3 linked regions of the Homo sapiens genome follow. The protein of the gene in region 3 purifies or fractionates together with the protein of the main gene of each other region. This does not show direct contact. Each region holds a gene or a part of one and is shown on either strand. Other genes may lie near its edges.

Region 1 (7,033 bases), on a different chromosome or scaffold from region 3:
ATTATTTTAAGAAAGTCACAGCAGAAACAATGATTATTTAAAACTTGGCTCTGGAAGAAATTCTCTTCACCTAGCTCTCCCTAAATATGGATATTCATACTAAATAATGGTCCCAAAGTCCCTATAAAAACTCAGAGGGCAGGAAGACCAGCAAACAGTATGTGTACTGATTAAACATTAGGAAAGACTTAACAATAATTGCAAATTTATTTGGAGGATTTCTTTAAATAGATAAAATACAAAATTCATTTCATCACATGCAAGAGCAGGCAGAACTGTACTTTTATCCTACCTACATAGTTGGAATGTAATATGTTAGGATGGTGACTCTGTGGGGTAAGGCTACCCAGCTCTTTAAGGGCCAGAGAAAACTGGTTTTTGGTTTATGCTGGATTAAAAACAAAAAAGAAAAAAGACAGCTCTGGCTCTAATTATACTCGGGATTTCTCATTCCATAATAACTTACAAAAAAAAAGCATTGTGCAAAGTTCCATTTTATATCAGGACACAAAAAGGGGTAGACTAATAAGGGGGGAGAAAAGTTCACTAAAGATTTGAGAAAAATACCCTATCAGGCAGATAGTACTCAACTACCCAATGAATGAAATATTTTAAAACGTGAGAGTAAAATGTTGAGACAATAAAGATGTTTTACAACAGCTATAAAAATTATAATAATGATAATTATCTTTTAAATATTCAAACAATGTGTTTATTATGCTTTTCAATAGAATTTCAATGAGAAAGTCATAATTTTGGATACATGTATTCTATCTTTATATTTTGTACGCCACAGGCTTGCTCTATACTGTTTTACTAGGCATTGAGACAATATAAATTACAGTATTTTTCTTTCCTTCCTTATGGATATGTTTTAAAAACAATATAGAGGCTCTTATAAAAGCTGAGAGAAATATGGCAAAAATTCTTTCATAAATCATATTGGTGCTTTTATTGAAAAAACTTTTTATGGATAACAACTATACATAGAAACCAGCTTATTTTCTGTTACCTCATCCTCTGACCCAGACTTATTTGATTGATTACTTTCTTCTTGCCCTTCTATGATTTCAATTTCTTCTTCACTCTTTTCCTCAGGTTCACTTTCCTCTTCTAGAATACAGATTTTGTTAAAAGCAAAGACTCAATAAATTAGAATTTTGCTACTGAAAAGTATTAAATACAATAAATGGGATTTATTTAAATTCCAAGATTTATTCCAAGATTTAGAAGCAACTTCTTCCATTCAAAATTTTAAAAATTATAAATACTCATTATATTATCATATTTTATAAATGAATCATATTTGAGTTTGGGGACAAGTTTAAAAAATTCTTAAGCATTCAGTCTGTATGTAATATGAAAACCAAAAAATAATAATCTTTCCTGTGTTCCTGTCTTGGAAAATACTTCCTTTAATTTTTGGTGATCTTTTAATCTTCAATATGTTATTTACTTATGTTTGTTCTCTGTGGACATCATGCATTTTTTCAGTTATTGACCCTCCTTAGGATTCCATTTAGCAGAACCTCCAACTTTTGTCATCATTATTAACCAAAAGATATTAAGCACGTCCTAGGAGCTATATAAAGTAAAAACTCCTACCCTACCAAGAATGGGCTTTGGGGAAAGGGAAGTTGAAAAATCAACTCTACTTCTTCTACGTAGTTCCAATGTGGGACTACGTGTATAGATGAAAGTGGTGAAAGTACCTTTATACAAGCAGGCCCCTCCGATACTTAAATTCCCTCTAAATAAGGCTGATCCAGACATCAATATACTAAGCACTAAGAAGTTACAAAAACAAGGCTGGAAACTTACAACCTGAAACATTTGTTGTTTTAGATACCTATCCTAATACACACATGAACATGTGTATGTATATGTGTGTATATATATATATACTGTCTCTTAAAAAATAGATAGACACATATGTGTTTTTAAGTCAACTGTTTCATTAAGTGAGTTAAACACTGTGCTTCAAGACATTTGGCTTGGGACACTGGGCAAATCAATAGTTTTATTTCTACCTTATGTAAGGAGGTCTCAGCGGACAGCCACCAAAGGGTGACTTCAGTTCTAACATCTTCAAGAGTTTAACATAGGGTGAGAAGGGGATATAGGTTCAGCAATCCTTTCAGAAAATTAATTAAATTATTTCTTCTATATGATAAGCATCTGACTAACAATAGCTGTTGGAAGACTTGGTGTTGATTTTGTTGCTGCAATCATCTGTTTTATATCTATTCCTTTTCTACAGAGGCCATGATATACACCCTCTATCACCCTCCATCTCATCTTCTACACTCCCAGAGCCAAGAAACATCCTTGCAAAAAGCTATGGCCTATGGGATTCATTAACTGCTAGGCTCTCAAGCAACTGAACACTATTTAAATCTCCTTCTTCCTAGAATGCAAAAACTATAAACAGGGTGGCTGCTCAGAGGACTATTATTCCTTCTTGCCACAGTCACATATTCTTGGGAGATTCAGATGTATAAACTTGATAATAAACAAGTATAATAACTAGTTATTTCAAGGCCATATACAGTTTTATGAGCTTTACCCAGAGTCTCCATTATAAATCACTCTCATCATCTTACCTTTTTCAAGCATTTCACCATCATTTTGCTTTTTTTCCTCTTCCAGGTCCATTGGTTTTTCCAGGGCTGCTTTCTCTTCCTTTTCTTCTTGCTCTAGTACTCCTTTTGTTTGTGGTATACATATGTCGGTTTTTTTATACTCTGTATCTTTATGTTTTTTCTGTGGTAGTTAACATAAGTTATTTTTACTAAAGGCAGAGTGCTATTTTGAAAGTTTTTTTGCAATAATTGATAACATACATAATGAACTATCAGTAAAACTTATGAGACATTTAGTTTATTACTTTTAAGAATCGCTTAATTTATAGAACTCTTAAACAACAAGAAATTTGGGTGAAAAAAGTTGAAGGAAATCCATTTTCTTTACCTTTACTTTTCTTGGCCAACAAAATGAAGTAATTAATGCTATTGGCACTCCTGCTGTCACAAGATAAATCAACCAAAGCCATGGGTGCCCTTCAGCAGCTGCCATTAACTGTTTTAATACACCAGGCTATAGACGAGATAAGCATAAAAATGCAATTCAAATTTTACAAACCTTTACTGGGTAACACAAGATACAAAAAAACTTATTTACTCAGGCATTTTACATTAAGGAGTGATGAACTCGTAAGTAAAAGAAGTTTCATTTTCCCACCTTATACTTTGTAAAGTCTAATTTAATTATTAGCATGCATCACTGAGTGAGACTTGATAGCAGAAGGTATGTTATGACAAAAGTGGAAACTTCTAACATACTGGCAAGAAAAATGGTAATTTTCCTTTTTGGTAAATTTCAGAATAGAACTACCTTTTATGGATGTATTACCTGGTTTATTTGAAGTGATCATTCATTCTGTACTCTGATCATTCATTCTGTACTTTTAAAGAACTTACTAAAAATCATACCTCAGAATTGTTTTCTTTTTTATATAAACACATTTCACACATAAGACCCTCAGTAAGGATATTATTTCTCTTATTAAAATAAAATTTAAAAAATCAAATGTTTTAGTTACAAGAGGTTCAAAACAAGAATCCCTCTTCACCTACTCTTTTGATGGTTTTTCGCTAGTGACCCAAGGAACCAAATGTAAGGTAAGAATTTTTCTTTATAGCAACTGAATTTAATGATACATTTTCTAAGATGCATTGTGTTGAAATATTTAGCCCAACCTTTTCTAAACAGTGTTAAGGTTTCGGGAAAAAACTGGAACAGAATTTAATAATGTTAAACTATAAATTCTTTGTACATTCCTCTAAGTAAAAAATAGTTAAATAAACAGTAATATTTAGATTATCATTGTCACTTAGGTCTTGAACTGGCAAGATGACAAAGATATTAAGTAGTCTTCTTCTATGAACAGTAAATAAGCATTAAATCCCATTAGTGATGTTATAATTTAATGAATAAAATGAGGACTTACATATGCATATATAGCTCATAATGAAGTAACATAAAAAGCAAAATATTCTGTCTACATAAACTTATTCAAACACATTTCCTTGGCATTTAGTAGTTACTGCACATTTATTTGCATTTAAAAGAGCCATCTGAATAACCTACAACCAAGACCAAGTATTATTATTCATAGTTATATCACTACTGCTATTGGTCAACACCATACCTTATTAGCATTTGCTATCATTATTTTCCATCTCCAACCATCTGCAGCCCAGTGATCTGCTACTTCCTTTTCCGAACAGATAATAAAATTATCAAAGTAGATATCAGAGGTCATAGACCAAAGCTCTAAACCAAGAGCACTGAAAGAAGTCAGAAGAAATGGATGATCATCTTCGAAATAATCTGGATTAGGAATTTTTCGAGGACTCCAGATTCCCTGGAAGAAAAGTAATTGAAGACATTTTCAAATAAAATAACTTCATTATAAATGCTGCTTAATAAGTAGCTGCTGTTGAATGAAATTCGCAATGCTAACTGGAAAAAAGAGAATTTTAACTGATATTAATTCATTAGTAATATACTGGATATAAAATCTTGTTTCTTTTGCTGTGTACACAATGTTCCCTACGAGTGATACTAACTTTAAATTCTGCAAGAAAAGGAAAAGGGAAAATCCAACATAAACAGAAACGTGAATAAATTTCACAATTTGTCTACTTTGGACAAATTTTTAGATTTAGTAAAGTTATTCATTGCAAAATGTTATTCAAGTTGTCCAAATCAGAAAGATCATTGTATAGCAAAAATGGAGTTACTCCATTTAACATATACCCATGACAGATATCATTAATCAGGTATGGTTGAATCTCGGCACAACTACTCAACCTAAAACTTCCATTAGATCTTAAATGATTAAACTGTCCATTAAATCAAATACATTCAACAATATCATTGCTCACTGACTCACTCCACCATCACATGTATGTATTCTGGGCCAGGCACTATGCCAGATGATGGAGACATACATGGTTCCTGTATTATGGAGTTTAAAGTCAAATAAAAGAGACAGACATCAAACAAAAAAATTTACCAAAAGAAACATTTTGTGTTAAATGCTTTTAATAAAAACTACAGTGAGTAATTAGAATATGAAACTGCATATATATAATGTTAGAACGTATCCATAAATAATTACAAAGATAAAACTAGAGGGTTAAGTGGATAACATAGAAACTTTTAATATAAAAAGCTAGGTACACTCAAAAGATGTCGATTGATATCAGAAAAAAATCAGGGCTGGGTTCGGTGGCTTACTTCTGTAACCTGAGCACTTTGGGAGGCCAAGGTGGGCGGATCACGGTCAGGAGTTCGAGACCAGCCTGACCAACATGTGAAACCCCGTCTCCGCTAAAAATACAAAAGTTAGCCGGGCGTGCTGGGGTGTGCCTGTAATCTCAGCTACGTAGGAGGGTGAATCAGGAGAATCGCCTGAGCCCAGGAGGCAGAGGCTGCAGTGAGCCAAGATCACGCCAGGCCAGGTTTTTTGTTTTTTTGTTTTTTTGTTTTGAGTCTTGCTGTGTCGCCAGGCGGGAGTGCAGTGGCACGATCTCAGCTCACTGCGATCTCCACCTCCAGGGTCCAAGAGATTCCCCTGCCTCAGCCTCCTGAGTAGCTGGGACTACAGGCGTGCGCCACCACATCTGGCTAATTTTTTGTATTTTTAGTGGAGACAGGGTTTCACCATGTTGACCAGGGTGGTCTCCATCTCCTGACCTCGTGATCCGCCCGCCTTGGACTCCCAAAGTGCTGGGATTACAGGCATGAGCCACCGTACCTGGCCAAAAATCAGAATTTTAATAATACTAAATAATAAGTACATTAATTAAGCACAGGCATTAATTACTAAAATGTACAATATGAGTCTATTTGATCAAAATTCACTTCTTATATTTACTTCTAAAATAGAACTTTATTTCAAAGTGAGCATCAACTGATAATTAGGGAAGAATATAGTATGAAGTGATTTATTTCCCCAGAAAATTAAATAATTGATGCTCTACTTTTAAAATATAAATTAGTTGAGGTCTATTTTCTTTGACATCTTAAAATTAAAAATGAAACTTCCAAAAGTTGACATAGGTAATTAGATATTTAAATAGAAAAGATCACAACATTTTTAACTTCACTAAATAATTGGAACAAGCGGTTGTTACCTGATAGTTAGGATTATCGACCAGTGGAGGTCTCCATACTCCTTTGTATTTTGGGTTATCTATCATGGGAGGTTTCCACTCACCACACCCAATCCGACATGCTGGATTAAGAATCTGAGGTGCCTCCCATTCTCCATCCGTGTCTTCATTCCTTAGGATATTAAAACAAAGCAAATACAGTAACCTCAAGTCTCAGATCAGTCATATAAACTAGTAACAAAAATGCATGTAAGAAACATTTGAAATCGACATTTGAAGATGAAGAGTGCTTACCAGTCATCAGGTTTTTCAGCATTAGGATCAGGGATAAATTTTGGTTCATCATCAAGCCAGCCAGCAGGTTTAACAACACTTGAATCTTCTATTTGGGCAGGTTCACTTTCATCCCTGTAAATACAACGTTTTATATTACTAATTATTCAGAAAGTTTAAAAATGCATGTTACAACACTAAGAAGGTACCATAAAATTATTTCCCTCCCTTTTGTTTGTGCCTGTTATTTGTCCTCATCTACTACCCACCTAAATCTTTTGCTAACTTGCCAATTTTTGGTACATATTCCCTGTTGTGCTCTATGCATACATGCACACACGTATACATTCTTTTTTTTAATACGAATGATAGCATTCTATACATAATGTATTAGACCTTGCTTTTGTTACTTAAAAACTCAGTCATTCATCAACAAATATATATTGCATGCTTACTATGTGTCAAGACTGTTCGAGGAGCTCCATTATTATTATTTTTTTCTTGAGGTGGAGTCTTGTTCTTGTTTCCCAGGCTGGAGTGCAATAGTGCGACCTCAGCTCACTGCAACCTCTGCCTTC
Region 2 (4,736 bases), on a different chromosome or scaffold from region 3:
TTGATCATTCTGTAAATGGTAGCAATAAGTGTATCAACACTTTGACCTCCTCTGTGTCTAGTAACATTTGCATATAGTACAACTGAGCACATAGCACCAGAATATTGGAACAGATGCTTCTCCAAAGCCAAGGGTTGCCTTACATTTAGAGTGGGAAAAGAGGAAAATGAGTTAGCAGAGGAGCAGCGGGGAGGGGGGTAAATTACAGGACATAATTTGCTTCTAAAAATTTGTGTTTCGTGTTGTAGTTATATAATTAACTTTTCTATTGTACTGATTGACAGATTTGGCACAGACATCCTCTCATTGTGAATATATATGAATATATCAGAGTTTTGGACTCTGGGGTATATTTACATAAACACAAGTATTCTGAAAGCATTGATAACCACACTGGTGTCTCTTAATTTTGTCTATAAGATGACCTTATAAAATCCCTCAAGAATTATTTAAATCAAGTGTACGAAGCTCTGCAGTTTTTTGTTATGTCTGAAATATTCATTAAAAAGTTTATTAAACCTGACAGCCTCTTCTTAATGTTTCACAAGCAAGACAAACTTTTATTTTTGTTTCTTCTTTAATTGGCATATGGAGCTTGGGAATATTAGTAGGAGAACAAGGAGACTATGTGAGGCATATAAAAGGCACCACACTGGAAAGAATCCAAGAGAATGAAAAATCACTTCTTTAAATAATATTTAGACACAGACTTTGTATCTATATTAGATATAAATCATGTCTAAATACAAATCTAAATAATATTTACAAATAATTATTACACAAAACCTATGTAACACACACTTTATAGTACACAACTGTAAATAAGAATACAAATCTCCACTGCTGTGGGTTCAAAACAGCAGGCTTGGACCACTCAAAAATGACATCTGAGAGGAATTAATAGTCATCCTGAAAGTTCTGCAGACAGACGCTAGCGGACAAACCACTTTGACACTTTTCATGCTATCATTCAGAAAAAAATAGAATACATGTAATACCAAATTAGGAACACTGATAATGAACATATATGCAAATTATATCTTCCAATGATATATCTGTGATATATGAAAATAATTTTGAAGAAATAAGCTTAAAATATAATTTACGGAATTCCAGAAAACTTTTTCTTCCTTCACTACATCCTCAGGAATAAGGCAATTGAGTGGATAACAGTTTGAATCTTACTTCAAAGTGTAGCTACAAAGTAAGAAAAAGCACTGGGCCAGGAGTCAGAATATCCAGGTTATAATCTTGATTCTTTCATGAAACAGCTTTGTGACACTGAAGGAATCTACTAAATTCTTTAGATTTAAATTGTTCTTGTCTGTAAAGCTGAAAATAAGAGAGAACTGGGCTAATCTGTAGGGTTCCTTTCACTCCAATTTCTACCAGTCTTTTTCTAAATGGGATCATCTCTAACAAAAAGTTACAATGGTGTGTCAGAACATCCTGTGACTGACCCTCTGTTTGCTGCTTTTTGATCTGATGACAGATGGCTTGGAGATGTATCAACAACATAATTGGGAGTAGATAAGCTGGCCACATTGATGAATGACTGAGAGGAGACTGCAAAGAAATAATATACCGTTTCATTTGCCCCTTAACACAAAGATGAATCAGCCTGTGGATGGGGTCAATTCACTGAACTAGAAAGGATTGATTATATATGCATAAAGTGCAAAAGCTATAGGTCTTTATAGCCATATCTGCTCACACATATATTCACTTTTCCATGCTAGTTATTCAGGATAGAAGGTGCATTAAATTTATACCAATTCCTAGCTACTGGCCTAGTAACTAACAATCTACAGAGTTGTAATGCATTAATAAATATAGGATTATAGAAGACATTTAGTATGTGATGTTACCTTTAAGTAACTCTCATAATTTTCTTTTTCCTTTTTTTCTTTTTTGAGATGGAGTTTTGCTTATTGCCCAGGCTAGAGTGCAGTGGCACAATCTTGGCTCACTGCAACCTCTGCCTTCCAGTTTCAAGCAATTCTCCTGCCTCAGTCTCCCAAGTAGCTGGGATTACAGGTGCCTGCCACCAGGCCCAGCTAATTTTTTTGTATTTTTAGTACAGACAGGGTTTCACCATGTTGTTCAGGCTGGTCTCAACTGCTGACCTCATGATCCACCCATCTCGGCCTCCCAAAGTGCTGGGATTACAGGTGTGAGACACCGCACCCAGCCCTTAACTGTCGTAATTTTCAAAGTAGTTTCATCTACTTTCCATCTCATTCCAACTCTAAAAGGTAGTAAGGACTGGAATTAACAACTCCAGATTACAGATGAAGAATCTGAGACTCAGAAAGATAAAGGAGCAGCTTTAGTGTCAAAAGGTCAGAAGTTTGTAAATGAAGAAGCTGAAGGTAGGCCCAGATGTGCTAACTGCTTGCCCAGCGCTCTTTCAAAATGCCACCTTGCCATCTTACAATGCATTATGCTGGTAATAGATACCCTGTGGATGTATCTGTATATCATATCATCACTGTCAGAAAAACAGCCTGAGGTTCTCTTGAATGACTTAAAGCTGACTTCCAGGCTGAGATGCGGCACTGTTAAGGGACAATGAGAGACCCACACAAATGTGCTGACAGCATAAACAAAAACAATTTTCACCAGTACCTAGTATGGAAAGGATTGCTGGCAGCACCTTGGCCTCTACCACCCTACACACACCTATAAAGCATCAGTCAGTCCCACCTCTTGACTGTATGCTTTGAGAACACGATTAAACAAGTCTGTTTAAAATTTCTTTTTTAAGGAAATCATTAGGTATATTCAAAAGGGTCATCCACTGTATTGTTTAGAATTTAAATGTACTAGAATTTTTCTGTGTTCTAATGTCTGATCAATTCTAAAATGCTAGTCAATTAATGGTCATCCATTTTCTTTTTTTAAAAAATGTGGCTCAACTACATGCAATGTGCTGAGCCAGTTTTGGAATCCACCCTGTAGCAGAGTAAAACTGGACCAAAGGAAGTGGAATCAGGGCCCCTGACTGTCACTTCTCCAGCTACACAACCTACAGTTTTTCTTCTTTATTGTGACGTGTGGTGATTCGTTTTGGATTCCTCTGTATGACAGGCAGGTCTGACCTTGAGGAAGACTGGTAGCCCACATCCTCTGCTTTTATGGGCTTAATGATATGGCCTGGCTTGGTGACGACCTTGGGAGTAGTCAGCTTTTGGAAAGCCCTCTGGGTGTTCCATGTGGATCCTATAGGGGTCTGGATGGTCCTTTCAAATTGCCGATGGTGGGTAAATGGATATGGAAGCACTTGTACCTGATGAGCTGCTGCGTGGATGTTGCGCTTCTCACTGATAATCACATTTGGCAAATTCTTATCTTTTCTTGGAGGACCCTCAGGGGCTTTAATGAGAAACTGGCGTCTTTTCTTGGCACTGGGCTTTAGGCCCACACCACCCCACTCGCCCCAGCCAGGTAGTGTCAGGTCCACGTCCTTTGGCTTACTCGCCTCCACAGCTTCCCTCTTCTCTTTCAAGAAATCTCTGATGACATCATCCCCAGCAAAAGCTTCCTTTATCATCTGCCTTTGGTCTCTCTCCTCTTCATCTTCCAGCTCCTCTATTATTGTGGGAACTGCCAAAGACCTCACGGAAGGAGACTGTGTGGTCAGGAAGTTCTGTAGGTTGATCAGTTGCTCCTTCTCTTTCTTCTCCTTAGGGGCATCAGGCCGATTATTTGGGGTCCTCTCTGACTGCTGTCCTTCTAACACAGGTCTGGGAAGCTCCTTATTTTGAAAACAATCTTCTTTTCCCAGCTCTTCTAGCTCTTCCAGAGTTTGTACTCTCTCTGACCTCTGTAGCAATAGGGGTTCCGCTTCTTCTGGGGCAGGTTCCTCTCTCTGGACCTGGGGAACAGTCCCCTCTGAACTTGCTTTTTGCTTCCTGGACTGATGTTTTTCCTTCAATTTCTGAGATAGTGCCCTCAATTCGGACAGCACCTCCTGGCTGCTAGAATCTTTTGTTTCTTGACTGCTTGCTGGCTCAGCATCCTGGTTGAGCTCAGATCTTTTTCTAAGGGATTGCCTTTCCTCAAATTCTCTCAACAAAATTTCTTCCTCTGCCACTGGTCTTTCTTCTGCCTCACTTGCAGAAACCTCATGAGCTGCAAGCTCTGGCACTTGCTCAGGGTCCTCCTGTGTTGCAGCCTCTTTGGTGTCACTGGTGCAGCTCCTGAACATCCAGGGATTCGGTCCGTCCACATTCATCTGCACTTCATTCGCTACATGAGGGACAAGGAGTTCTTCCACTTCTGTGCCTCCCTCCTCTTCCTCACTCTCAGAGGCTACCTGGAGTTTCTGTGTCAGTTCTTTGTTCTTGGCCAACTGTTCCTGCATAGCTTGGCGAGCCTCCAGGTCATATTTGGCCATAATTGCCTTTGACTTGGCCCATTTCCCACTGTTTTGGTGCTTAAGGCTCATTCTTTCCATCATTCTGGCATTTTCAATTTTTTCCATTTCTTCCAGTGCCACAGTTGGATTAACCTTCTGTAGCTGCTCAAACTCTTTTAAGGCTTTCTTGGCCTTTCCTTTCTTCACGACTTTGTGATACTTTTTACTTTTGATTTTCTTCTCTTTTCGAGCCTTGGCCTCATAGTAGGACTGCAGAGCCCGAGCCCTCTGAAGCTCTGCTCGGTGCATCTTTGCCTCTTCCAGGCTCATGGCTTGGAGAGAGGCCTTTTCCATGGGAGTCAGTAAAGGATCTGTC
Region 3 (7,051 bases):
TAAAACTTCTGTGCCCAGAGGTGCTCCAGCTCAACAGGAGCCTGCTTGTCCCCCAGCACCACCGTGTTCCCACTACTGGCCCTCACTTTGTCTCCTCGATCCTCAGCAGCCTGAAGCTCCCCCACCAGCCACTGGAGCTGTCCTGCGGGATCCGTGGAGTTGATCAAGAGCCAGAAGTTCTCACGGGAACAAAAATTCATATTGAGAGAGATGAGGCGGAGACCGGGGTATGGGGAAAGAGCATAGAACCCCCCAATTCTGAAACAAAGTAAACATGAGAGGTCAACACTTGTTCCAATCCTGGTCCTCCTGTGCTGGGCATTTGGGTGGAGGGTAAAAGCATACATGACATCTTCCCCACCTGCAAGGAGCTCACAGTCTAGCCAGAGACCAAACAGTTCTAATTATTGGGTCTGTGTGACACAAAAGACTCTGAGGGCAGAGGGCTCCAGGAGTATGGGGGAGGGATAAGAGTTAGCTAGAATGGGAAGCAAGGACCACACAGAGGGAAGATGACATGGGATGGATAAGGTGGGAAAAACTGGAGCACTTAAAAAAAAGGGGGAAATCATTTCCAGAGGGCCAACATGAGCAAAGACACAGCTGGGGCATAGAGAGGTTATGCTGCCAGACCTTTGAAGGAGGGTGGCTGGAGATAAGAGTAGAAAGGGAGGGCTGGAAAGCTGGGTGCAGTGGTTCATGCCTGTAATCCCAGCACTTTGGGAGGCCGAGGTGGGCAGATCATGAGGTCAGGAGATCAAGACCATCTTGGCCAACATGGTGAAACCCCATCTCTACTAAAAATACAAAAATTAGCTGGGTGTGGTGGCGTGCACCTGTAGTCCCAGGTACTTGGGAGGCTGAGGCAGAATTGCTTGAACCCAGGAGGTGGAGGCTGTAGTGAGCTGAGATGGTGCCACTGCACTCCAGCCTGGGCAACAGAGCAAGATTCCATCTCAAAAAAAAAAAAAAAAAAAAAAAAAAAAAGGGAGGGCCAGGAGCAGTAGCTGATGCCTGTGGTCCCAGCATTTTGGGAGGCCGAGGCGGGAGGATTGCTTGAGGTTAGGTGTTTGAGACCAGCCTGGGCAACATAGCAAGATCTTGTCTCTACAAAAACTAAACTAAAAAAAAAAAAAAAAAAAAAGCCTGGTGCGGCAAAACAGTAGAAAGGGAAGGAGGAGTCAGATTAGGGGAGCCAAATGAAGAGCACTAAGGACTCATGCTAGAGCAATCAGAGACAATGCCCCAGGTTCCCTTCTCCCTTCACTTTCATTCACCTTTCTTTTCCCTTCCTGGGTTTCCACGGACGATAAGTACCTGAGGGTGCGCAGGGCTTCGGCAGGCAGCCAGGGCTCCCAAGCCTTGGCCATCGCTTCATAGAGCCAGCGGGAGGAGTGGTTGCCCTCAATGAAGGGGGGAGGGAAGCTATTGACAGGTGTGCTTTCATGGTTACCCACAGCAGGGTACACTGGCACTGGCCCCAGGAACTTCCTCACAAGTGCTGTGACGGTGGTCAGGGCCCGCAGTTGGTCCTGACGAGTCTGGTGCCAGACATCATGTGCGGGGATGTCTCCTGTCCAGTACACCATATCAAAAGGGCCGGCTGGGCCCAGCCCACTCAACAGGCTCTCCAGGGTCCTCAGGGGCAGGTCACACTTGCTGTATTCGCCCCAGTATCCGGCACCTGGCCGGGATGCGGGCGGCAGGCCAGAACCCCGGCGGCAGCACAGTGGGTCTGCACAGTCAGGGTCCGTGCCCTCCAGGTAGTCATGATCCCAGTGCAGGTCAGTGAGGAAGAGGATGCGGCTGACAGGGGCACCTGGGGCTGGGGGGCTAGGGGGTTTGGGGGGCGGCTTCGGCACAGTAGGCAAAGAGATGTTCCAAGATGAGAAAATGTCCCAGTGCCCACAGGTGGAGCCCAGGAGCAGGCCACAGGCCTCAGATGGGCTCAGCACTGAGCGTCTCCACACCTCCACCATGTCATCCTCAAAGAGGTGGACAATGGATTGGCACACGGCAGGTGGTGCTATCTTCAGCAGATTGCACAGCTTGATGGCCACGGAGCCCACGCGAGCCACATTGGGTTCCTTCTGCAGTGGGAGGAGCGCATGGTGAGAAATCAGAGGCAGAGCAGAGGAACCAGGCCAACCCCTGGCCACCACCCCTTGGGCCTCCATTTCCAAACTGGGGCTGGGCAGGACTCAGTGCACCAAGCTCAGTGCACACCTTTGCCTTCCAGATATTGCCCTGTAACTCAGGCAGCACCAGGCCATCGCTTCTTCTTTAGCTCAGCGGCCTGTGGCATGAGGCCTTTGCTTGGCAAGCTGACTTCCTCAGGCACTGTCTGCATTATTTTCTTACTTCACAAAGGTCACAATGGGGTGATGGTGGCATGTAGCCATGGGTGTCCCCAAAGGGGAGCAAACTCAGTGATGGATTGTAGATGCCACCCTCTCCATCAGGGATGCATTCTGAGCCCAGCGCACCAGCATCAGCCCCAGCCCCCAGCCCCAGCACTCCTTTCGGCCTCCTCCACTGCAGCCCCTTCAGTGCTCACCTTCAGCCCGAGGTTGATGGCGGTGAATAGACCTTTGCAGATTGGGCAGGTGAGGTTCCCCCACCCAAAGACATCTCGGAGCCGGGGCACTATGCGATGTAACCTGGCAGGATGGCCTTGGGGAGAAAGAGGGTGAGCCTCTGCCGGAGCCCAGAGAACCCGAGAGTCAGACAGAGCCAGCGCCAGCGCCAGCGCCAGCGCCAGCGCCAGCACCAGGCCCATCCAAAGGAGTCCGGGGGCTCCGGCGGTCCCGTCTTGTCCCTGCTCCCGGCCGGACCTGGGGCAGCTCTGGCGGAGTGACGCTCCGTAGCGGGGCATTGTCGCGCTTCCTACACGGGGCTGGTTCGTCTGTCCCGTCCCCCCCGGCCTGGACCCTAGCCAGCCCTCAGGGCCCCGGGCGGCGCCGGGGACACCCGATTACCCTTCTCTGTAGTCGGCTGACTGCTCCGCGGCCGGCCGCAAAGCAGCTCCGCCCCTTCCTCTTCCTCTGATCTCTGACAGCTGATCTCTCGGTGGCGGGCGGCTGTCAACGCTGCGGAGGCGGAGGGGGCGGGGCGCTCCCGGGACCGCCCCGATTCCGCCCCCTCTCCCTGCCCCCGCCCTGCCCCGGGCGCACGGGCTGCGGGGGTGGGGACTCTCCCTGAGGTCACCAGGGGCTCCGCCTTGAGGTCACAGCCGCGGGAGGCCGTGCTCGTGCTTTGGAGCTCCATGTGATGTGGTCGGTGGAAGACGTCTCCTTTGTCAGAATCCGCGCTCAGATTCCCGGAATAGCTGCCAGACCGACCCCAGCGTTTAGCCCGGGAAGGGGAGGTAGGAGAGAGCAGGGCGGGCAGGATCCTCCCACTGGGTGTGTTGCCTCTGACAGGAAGGCGCCTTCCCTCGATTCCCCATGCTCTGCCACTGGCACCAGCCCTCTTGAGTCACCCTGAGAATCACTCACCTGTGATTCAGATGAGGAAACAAACCTTAGAGATGGTGAAGAGACTAGGAAGCCGTAAAGACCATATAGCCGTGGGGGCCAATAACATGGGCGGGAACCCAATTGGGTCTCCCACCTCCGTGTATCCACGACAGTAAAAGCGAGCATTTATGGAGTTGTTTATGATGTGCCAAGCACCAACCCAGGCACTTTATAATTAATAATCTTCAATTCTCACAACAACCCTAAGAAGTACCTATTATATTGGGGCTCAGAAATCCATACCCAAAATATGGTGGTTTGACTTACTAAGTTAAGCCTTAAGGTGTGTCTGGCCTTCCTACTCCCGCGCCCTCTCTCCCAAAGCCGTTACCTAGCGTCCAGACCCATCAAAAGGAACAACGGTTTTTTTCTTCCCCTCCCTACAAAACCAAGAATATAATCACACCTGAACAGACCCCTTCACATGATAATGTGCTAGTTAATCTGTTCCCTGATCCATTCCTTCTCCCTCAGCAGAATTCCTCTTCCCCTCACTCCCACAACCCCCTTTGCCTGAATGACACCTAAGCTTCTGAACTCGTCTGGGAAGTGGGTAGTCACTCTGTGGTTCCCCGTGGACACATTAATACAATTTCTATGCCTTTTCTTCAATTAATCTGTTTTTTGTGGGTTGATTTTTCAGCAGAATTTCAGAGGGCGAAGGGAAAGTTTCCCTTGGTCCCTGCAAATACTATTATTACCCTCCTTTACAGATAGGATGAGGCACAAAGAAGTTAAGTGGCAGAATAGCAATTAAACCCTAAGCTGTTTGACGAGTGCTTCTGAGGAATCCTCAGAGCTATCAAGTCCTGTCAGTTCTTTCCTTTGATAATTTTTTACAAGTGTTTTTTCCCCCCAGTTCTGGGGACATCATCTCAGATAGAGTACTCACAGTAATAATTAGCATGCATTTTTAAGATTATGTACTATGAAAAACAAAACAAAACAAAACCTTTTTATCTAAGGAAGATGAGCCCCTTTAAATTATCAGGCCCAGACAGGCATTTAAAATGTAGCAACAGTCACTCTCACTCTTCTTTGAGCTAAGTAATTATCTCTTGAAACCACTTGCTATGCCAAGTAGCCATTAAATGCCATACACCTTATAGTTCAACAATGTATAGCCAAGCGCTAAACAATGTATAACCAGTGTTATTTCTGTAAACAATGAGAATTCCTGATGAACAACTTTTGTATTCATTTCCTCTCCTAATTCATCTTTTTTTCTTTGAAAATATGAGCCTCTCTTTTGTTGTCCAGAGTGCTCCCCCAAGACAACTTGCAAGTGTGTCCTGGGTCGCAGTCCTCAACCTTGGCCCTTGGCCCGAATAACCCTCTGTAGGTACTTTTCTGAGGACTCTGCCTTACGTTAATCCTCACAACAAATTTGGAAGTCGGTATTATAATTATCCCCATTTTACGGAGAAGGAAAGTAGGATTAAGTAAGTGGCTCAAGATCCCACAGCTAGCTAGTAAGTGCTGGAACTGGAATTTGGATGTGTCAAGCAAAACATGTCTGAGACAGGTCTCAATCAATTTAGAGGTTTATTTTGCCAAGGTTAAGGACATGGCTGGAAGAAATAAACACGGAATCGCAGAAACAGTCTGTGGTCTGTGGCTTTCTCCAAAGATGATTTTGAGGGCTTCAATATTTAAAGGGGAAAAGTGAGCTGGAGGGAAAGAAGAAGGGTATGGTAATCCACATGTCGCAAGAGAAAAGGAGCAGGTAGGGAGATACTCAATTATGTGTTCGTCTGGCACTTTACATAAGATAAAGTAAATATGCCTGTGGAGATATTTAACCTTTTGTGTTTTTTTTGTTTTTTTTTTTTTGAGACAGAGTTTTCGCTGTTGTTGACCAGGCTGGAGTGCAATGGCGCAATCTCGGCTCACCACAACCTCTGCCTCCCGGGTTCAAGTGATTCTCCTGCCTCAGCCTACTGAGTAGCTGGGATTACAGGCATGTGCCACCACACCCGGCTAATTTTGTAAATATTTAACCTTTTGTCTGTAGCTATCTGCTTAGGAACAAAAGGAAAGGCAGCTTCTTGCATGACTCAGTTTTCAGTTTATTTTTTTTCCTTTTGGCATAGTCAACTGGAGTCCTGAGTTTTTATTTTCCTTTCACAAATGCAACATTCTGGCTCTATTCTTTGCTGTGTGGGGACCCATTCAGAACACCAGAGTTGGTATAACAATTATTTTAAGCCGAAGACATTTCAGATTCAATAGATGCAGAAATAAACCTTCTGGGAGCTTTCTTCATCTGATTAAAACTTCTGGGAAATGTCAACCTAAAGGGAAAAATCTAAGGCAAACTTGATATAAGTAGAGAGTTTATTTGGGCCAAGTTTGAAGACTGTGAAGCGAAGATTCAAGTTGCCCTGAGTATATGCTCCCAATTAGCAGAAGTCACAAGTGGGTTTTTAAAGGAGAAGAAGAGGCAGTTCCTAATGAGGACTAAGCTCTGATTTTTTCTTATCTTGCTCAAATTCCTATCGAAAGGGTCTGGGGAGTCATGCCCTACAAACCATAAATTCTTATCAGTTGGGTTTTATTTAACACTATATATTGTGACTGCCTTTTCAGTCATACTCTGGCATAAAATTACGTGATAAAGAAGAAAGTCAAAATATTTTACCCCAAAACATGTTTCTTTGCCATATATATATATATATATATATATATATATATATATATATATATGTTTTTTGGTTTGGGGTGGGGGGCGGGACAGAGTTTCACTCTTATTGCCCGGGCTGGAGTGCAATGGGGTGATCTTGGCTTACTGCAACCTCCCCCACCCAGATTCAAGGGATTCTCCTGCCTCAGCCTCCCGAGTAGCTGGGATTACAGGCACCCACCACCACCATGCCCAGCTAATTTTTGTATTGTTAATAAAGATGGGGTTTTGCCATGCTGGCCAGGCTGGTCTCGAACTTCTGACCTCAGGTGATCCGCCTGCCTTGGCCTCCCAAAGTACTGGGATTACAGGAGTAAGCCACCGCACCCGGCCACTTTGCCATATTTTGAAATGGCCCTGCAAAGTCGTACCTTATGGGGGAAAATTTACATCTGTAAAGAATCTCTAATAACACAGATCTTTTTCTTCTGGGCCCTCCAATCCTGAAGAGATTAACTGAGAGTCTAGCACCTTTTAAAGGTCTGAATAGGAAACATTTGTCGACTGTTGTCTCTAAGGGCAGCCACTAAGAGACTTCAAAGAACCTTGGTCTCCACAATCTTTTTTTTTTTTTTAAAAATGGCGTCTCACTCTGTCGCCCAGGCTGGAGTGCAACAGTGTAATCTCGGCTCACTGCAACCTCCGCCTCCCGGGTTCAAGCAATTCTCCTACCCCAGCCCCCCGAGCAGCTGGGACTACAGGCATCTGCCACCACACCCAGCTAATTTTCATATTTTTAATAGAGATGGGGCTTCACGATGTTGGCCAGGATGGTCTCCATCTCTTGACCTCGTGATCCGCCTGCCTTAGCCTCCCAAAGTGCTGGGATTACAGGTGTGAGCCACTGTGC

What was found. Proteins that work in one complex are often made in the same cells at the same time.
Region 1: the proteins of SMPD1 (region 3) and CLGN purify together in Homo sapiens (co-immunoprecipitation; 2 studies listed by BioGRID and IntAct, with this or other methods). This does not show direct contact.
Region 2: the proteins of SMPD1 (region 3) and ALG11 purify together in Homo sapiens (affinity purification with mass spectrometry; 2 studies listed by BioGRID and IntAct, with this or other methods). This does not show direct contact.

What each region holds. Positions count from the first base shown.
Region 1 is NC_000004.12:140,389,616-140,396,648, forward strand, and holds part of CLGN (calmegin precursor), read right to left. Parts: intron 6,591-7,033; coding exon 6,477-6,590; intron 6,355-6,476; coding exon 6,204-6,354; intron 4,427-6,203; coding exon 4,211-4,426; intron 3,097-4,210; coding exon 2,971-3,096; intron 2,764-2,970; coding exon 2,604-2,763; intron 1,114-2,603; coding exon 1,013-1,113; intron 1-1,012. UniProt on the Homo sapiens protein: Functions during spermatogenesis as a chaperone for a range of client proteins that are important for sperm adhesion onto the egg zona pellucida and for subsequent penetration of the zona pellucida.
Region 2 is NC_000013.11:52,029,398-52,034,133, reverse strand, and holds the end of ALG11 (GDP-Man:Man(3)GlcNAc(2)-PP-Dol alpha-1,2-mannosyltransferase), read right to left. Parts: coding exon of another isoform or gene 3,029-4,736; 3' UTR 534-3,028; downstream 1-533. Other genes in the region: UTP14C (U3 small nucleolar RNA-associated protein 14 homolog C), read right to left, coding at 3,029-4,736. UniProt on the Homo sapiens protein: GDP-Man:Man(3)GlcNAc(2)-PP-Dol alpha-1,2-mannosyltransferase that operates in the biosynthetic pathway of dolichol-linked oligosaccharides, the glycan precursors employed in protein asparagine (N)-glycosylation.
Region 3 is NC_000011.10:6,386,423-6,393,473, reverse strand, and holds the start of SMPD1 (sphingomyelin phosphodiesterase isoform 1 precursor), read right to left. Parts: upstream 3,001-7,051; 5' UTR 2,876-3,000; coding exon 2,558-2,875; intron 2,091-2,557; coding exon 1,318-2,090; coding exon of another isoform or gene 1,278-1,317; intron 259-1,277; coding exon 87-258; intron 1-86. UniProt on the Homo sapiens protein: Converts sphingomyelin to ceramide. Exists as two enzymatic forms that arise from alternative trafficking of a single protein precursor, one that is targeted to the endolysosomal compartment, whereas the other is released extracellularly.